Regions from separate parts of the Homo sapiens genome. Here region 2 is linked to region 1. A link means that fine-mapping ties the variant in region 1 to the expression of a gene that starts in the linked region. Tissue or cell type: fibroblasts. Region 1 holds a variant in brackets; the other region holds the start of a gene. All regions are shown on one strand. Distances are from middle to middle. Region 1 has its middle 26 kb from the start of PUM3. Region 2 holds the start of PUM3 (pumilio RNA binding family member 3).

Region 1 (2,912 bases):
GGGTTGCATTATGCCTATTGATCTTCCTGAGCTTTCGCAGCCTGTAAATGATGAGCCTTTTAGCGCACTCCATGACTGAAGGGCACACAACTGTGAGAACAGCTCATTTCATTTTTTTCAATTTATACAAAAGATGCTGTGGCCCAAGCCCTCTAGGCACCCATCTCAATACATAAATATGCCAATTAAGCTAAATGGAGATCCTGCAGGTTAAAAGTGCCTCATAAAAGAAGGAGGCTTTTTCAAAGCCAGAAAGTTTATCCACAGAAGAAACACCAAATCAACAAAAGTGGATCCATGCCAAGCCATGAAGGCCAGAAAAACAAGGCTTCTGGGATCCAAAAAAGAAGAAAAACAACCATTAGTTGTTCCCTAGAAAACTGGGGAAAAAATACCTTTTAGCTGTGACTTCAGGATTCCAATCAGATGCTACTATTATTATTATTTTTTTCATTGCATTTTCCTGGGCAGGGTTGATGGTTGGGGTGGGTGAGTGGGAGAGGGAGGAAATCAGTCCTAAAGCTGAACTGATACAAAAGTGTCTCAGTTACCCACCAAATGTCACAAGGGCAGGTGTGGGCAAATCAGTGTTAGTTAGATATGCTATAGCCTTGCCACTCAAGCATGGCCCATCACACTCATGCCTGGCAGCCACAGTAGCTGCATCAGCTGGGGATGGCTAAAAGTAGAGAATGCAGGCCCCATCCCACATTATGTTAGCAAGAGACTGCATTTGGCCAAGATCCCCTAACGATTTGCCTGCATATTAAAATGCCAGAAGCCTTGACCTACACTAAATGGCCAGCCTGATACTCACCATCCCATCTCTGGAGAACTTATACTCTTTCTGCCTACCCTACAGCACTGAGGGAGTGGAGGTCTGGATCCAGGGAATGGGCTAAGGGAAAAAGATAGACAAATGGGTTTTTGTCCAGCTTTTAGTCAACTTCAACTGAGTGTAAGAATCTCAGGAGATGCTTCTGAATGGATTTATATACTCAGACTTGTCCATCATACATCTCCAAATCTTTGATGATCAGCTTCCAATCAAAAACTAGGTTTCTTGGGTCATCTTTAACACCTTATTTGGGGTCTGAGGAAATAGCCTCCACTATTGGAGGGCACTGAGGAAAAGTTTGGCAGTTTAGAGAGCAACAGATGGTAGCAGGTGAAAGGATTTTTACTTTATGTTCTTGGCCCTTGGATGTGCTTTTGTGTGAGCCAAGAATGTTGTATAGTTCTTCCAATGTTTCTCCCACTACTAATACTAAAAAGGCTTAGAAATGCCACAGACCCAACAACATCACCAATGTTATCAAAACCATTTCATGAAACTCCAAGCATCTTTGCTCACTCACTCAGTTACTCCCTCAGCCATTGACTC[T/C]GTGAGCATTTATCCATTATCTACTTGTCATAAACCCATTGCTCTGGGATTGCTGCCCTCTCGTCTACTTTCTTTTCCTGCCAAAATTTACCCATAGTCATCAATAACTGCCTTCCTTTCCTGAGACCTTGCTGTCTTTATTTCTCTGCCATCTGTCTCTATCCCCATGTCTCTATAGAAATAAGCCTTGAAAATCCCTTCTATCTCTTTGCCAAATGCAAGACAGAAATTCTTGACCATCCAATTGGAAACAAGAACTAAGGGTCGTACTCTCTCTGTGGCTTCCACGATACTGCATTTTATCTGCTTTCTTACTCCTGTAACTTCTCTCTTTCTTTGCTGTCTCTATTTCCTCTCATTATTCATCTTCTCCAAGTTGAAAGAGCAATCACAAAGTTTTCAATTTCCATCTACAGACTCATAGAGTAGATAGGCAGTGGGGCAAGCACTCTACTACACATTTAACTTACATTTTCAGTTAAAGTCACAGCATGCCAACAAGTAATAGTTCTCATTACTATTTTATTTTGTTTATGTTTTAAATAGAGACAGCGTCTCACTCTGTCACCCAGGCTGAAGTGCCATGGCATGATCATAGCTCACTGCAGCTTTGATCTCCTGTAACTTCCTCTCACCTCAGCCTCCTGAGTAGCTGGGACTACAAGGCACACAACAGTATGCCTGGCTAATATTTTTGTTTTAAAATTTTTTGTAGAGATGGGGTTTCACTATGTTGCTCAGGCTGGCCTCTTAAACTCCTGGCCTCAAGTGATCCTCCCACCTCAGCCTCCCAAAGTGCTGGGATTACAGGCCTGGCCCATTATTTTAAAGACAATAAACTCAAGGCTCAAAGGAAGTAGGTAACTTACTCAAGGTTACAGAGCTTGTTAGTGGGGAGCCCAAGCCCATTACATCCAAAATATAACCAGCAGGAATCCGTTGCCCTCTGAGGGAATCTAGAATAATGGGAGCTGAAAGTACTGACCAAACTGTCAGGGCAATAGAAATCCTGGATGGATGGAGGGCTTGGTATGAGGGCTGGAGGGAAACTGGGCCGTAGAAGGAGTCACATAAGCGTTCTAGTCAGAACTGACTGAGGCTGGTGGAGCAAGCTGGGATGGGGGCTGCTTTATGGGAGCTAATGCTGAGATAAGGAAATCAGTCACTTCAGTGGAGGAGAAGCTTGGGTCTAGAGACAATCTTACCTGTTTCACCTATATGCTCTTGAACCCACTTTACCAATTTCCAAGTAGGTATTATCACAAATTAATTCAATCCGGTGAACGCTATTGTGAGCTTTTTCTGTGCCTCATGGCGTCTAGTTGGCAAAAGGGGAAAGACCACGTTGATTTAACTACCCTAAACCTCAATATCAGAGAGACATGGTGTCCAAGCCAAGCTCTACCACACAGTTGCTATAAGGTACTGTACAAGTTATATATCTCTCTAAACCTGTTTTCTTATCTGTAAATGGGGATGATAATAGTTTGTTACTCATTCAATTGATGCAATGTCTAAATAGATTATG
Region 2 (2,912 bases), 26 kb before region 1:
ATATGTCCAAAACATAATTCTCTATGTTGTTCTTTATGTTATTGTTGTTTGCCCCACAAACAACAATATACTATTTTTCCCTGCCCTATCGTCCTCCATCTCAGCCAATGGCACATCATCTACTTTACTGCTCAAGTAAGAAATCTGAGTTACCCTTGACATTTTCCTCTCTACTCTGCCACGCTGAACCATAAGTTAGTTCTCTTAAATGTCCCTTACGTCACCACCCTAATGCAAACTATTACCAATACAATCTCTTGAGCTTCCAAATGTAATACATTTTCTAAAGAGAACCAGGGCCTATTCATGATTCTCACTTGCTTACAAGTCTTCAATGTTTTCTACACATGGTAATAGGAACGGAAATGTTTTCCTATTGTACAGAAAAAAAAATTCCCCATCATGACCTTCAAGGCCCTACAGAACCTAGTTCCACTCTATCCGGCTAACTTTATCTTGTACTCTAACTATACTCCTTCCTAGCTCCCATCTCAGGAACTTAGCCCATTATCGCCTCTGCTTGAAGTACTCCCTGAGCTTCCAAATCTCCGTTTAAAGATCACTTCTTCAGACTCCACTATCTGCCAACTCAGCATCCAGTTCGTTTCCTCCCAGCACTTAGAATCTGCGTACATTCAGGCAAACCGCCTAGCACTGGAGTTGGGGTTTGTGAAGTAGCACAGACAGGCTGATCAGGCCGAGCACGGGCTGGGATTCCGGAGTGAAGCTAGTCCACTCTAACCCGGCACGCAGGGCAACGTGGTGGGAGAGAGGTCGGAGTCCCGCCCTTCTTTTTTTTTTTTTTTTTTTTTTTGAGACGGAGTCTTGCTCTGTCTCCCAGGCTGGAGTGTAGTGGCACGATCTTGGCTCACTGCAAGCTCCGCCTCCCGGGTTCACGCCATTCTCCTGCCTCAGCCTCCCAAGTAGCTGGGACCACAGGCGCCCGCCACCATGCCCGGCTAATTTTTTGTAGTTTTAGTAGAGACGGGGTTTCACCGTGTTAGCCAGGATGGTCTCGATCTCCTGACCTTGTGATCCGCCCGCCTCGGCCTCCCAAAGTGCTGGGATTACAGGCGTGAGCCACCGCGCCCGGCCAGTCCCGCCCTTCTTGCCAGGCTCCAGTCAGTCCCAAACTCCTAGCCCAGAAAGAGGCCAGAGGAGACTGCCCAGTGGACAACAGCCCCGAGAGACCTTCCCGACTTCCAGCGCCCGGCAGGGTGCGAACCCCTCCCAAGAGCGACCGCTGAGCCTGCCACACTCACCGCACACGTGGGACCGAGACAGCTCGCGCAGCGGATCCCGACCGCCTCTCCGCTTCCGCTTCCTTGCCTTGCTCCGCCCCCGGGCCGCTTTTTTTCATCTTCCGCGGCGGATCAGGGACTAAGAGGTGGAGCTTCCCAGAGAATACAAAAATTCGGAATTTCTATTGGTCCGCTGCTGTTATGCCTCCTCTTGAGGCGCGAGGATTTTGGCCCTTGCAAGAATCCGTCGGGCGGAGGACGCGACAACGGCCACGGGAAATGACGTCATTAACCCTGTGGCTTCCGTGCTGGAAAGAGAGGGAGAGCTCTTGCGAGGCAGAACAGGCTGCTGAAGGACAGACCTGGCTGGCGCGGTTAATAAGAGGCCTGCATCCCGTAGCCTGAACAAATATTGAAGTAGCTAAAGTTTCTAAAGTGTGTTAATTTGCATACTTCCTCAGCAGTCCAGCGTGGAGGATAAAAGGGGTATCTTGTGAGTCGATTTGAATTGTAATCCCGTTTTTTTCACTTGCTAGCTGTGTGGCTCTGGGAAAATTACAGTTTTTATGAGCTTTGGCTTCCTGATCAATAAAATAGAAATAATTAAGTGATACGTGCAAAGCGCTTAGCATGGAACGCTCTCAATAAATGTTTGCCATTTTTAGTGTCTGCTCGTGCCTGGAAACTGCTGTTATTCCATTTTATACTTCAGGAAATAAGATTGTGGTTAGGATATATGCCCCATTTTCCAGATGAAGAAACTGACACCACAAACTTGCTCGTGTCAAGCAACAGAATTTTATTCTTTAACTGTTCTAGAGGCAAGAATTCCAAAATCAAGCTGTTGGCAGAGCCCTGCACCTTTTGAAGGCTCTAGGGGAGAATGCTTTGCTTCTTCAGCTTCTAACGGTTCCAGGCGGTCCGTGGCCTCTTGTTGCATGACTCCAATCTCGGCCTGTCTTCTAATGGCCTTCTCCTGTGCCTGTGCCACTTCTCTGTGTGTTTTTAGGACACTGAACATTGAATTTAGAGTCCACGGGGATAATCCAAGATCATCTCATCTGGAGGTCCTTAATCACATCTGCAAAGGCCCTTTTCCCAAATAAGGTCACTTTCACATGTCCTGGGAGTTAGGACATAGACATATCTTTTGGAGACTATTCAACCCACTGCATCTGTAAAGTTGAGGAACTGGCACTTGATCCCTGGTGCCAGACTTCAGATTTTACTGTCTTCCAACTTACTCCGTTTTCTGGCCACTAAGGAGTTAGAGTTGAAACTGGTAATTTAGTAGACTGTATGCTTCTTGATGACAGGGGCCATCATTACTTTCCAGGCACTTATCTCACTATGCAGCACATAGATACTTGATAAGTTCTTGTCGTCTACCTTAACTGTTACTAGTTTACATTTCAGCTCATTTAAATCTCATAAGAACGTTTTAAATAGGTCTTTTCTCATTTTACAGAGAAAGGCAAAACATAGTAGCTTTGGTCCAGTGAGCCTGACTCTAAACTCAACGTGGCTGCCTCCGTACTGCTTTCAATAATTCAGTAAATGCTAAGAGAAGAGAATATGGAACAGGAATTGCAGGAGGCCCATCAGCTGTGCCTTTTGGGCAAATAGCATAGTAGTGGGGATATTAGACACCTTGAAACACCTGACAAGTAA

What was found.
Region 2: it holds the start of PUM3, and the variant in region 1 is fine-mapped to the expression of PUM3 in fibroblasts (GTEx, PIP above 0.99).

What each region holds. Positions count from the first base shown.
Region 1 is chr9:2,869,065-2,871,976 of GRCh38, forward strand. No RefSeq gene overlaps it. Among named protein-coding and RNA genes, the nearest start is that of PUM3, 26 kb to the left of the region's middle. The variant T/C (reference allele first, on the strand shown) is at 1,385.
Region 2 is chr9:2,842,783-2,845,694 of GRCh38, forward strand. It overlaps PUM3 (pumilio RNA binding family member 3), which reads right to left and starts at 1,313. Exons shown (of 18, transcript NM_014878.5): 1 at 1,263-1,313. RefSeq lists enhancers at 342-903, 1,287-1,581, 1,405-1,644.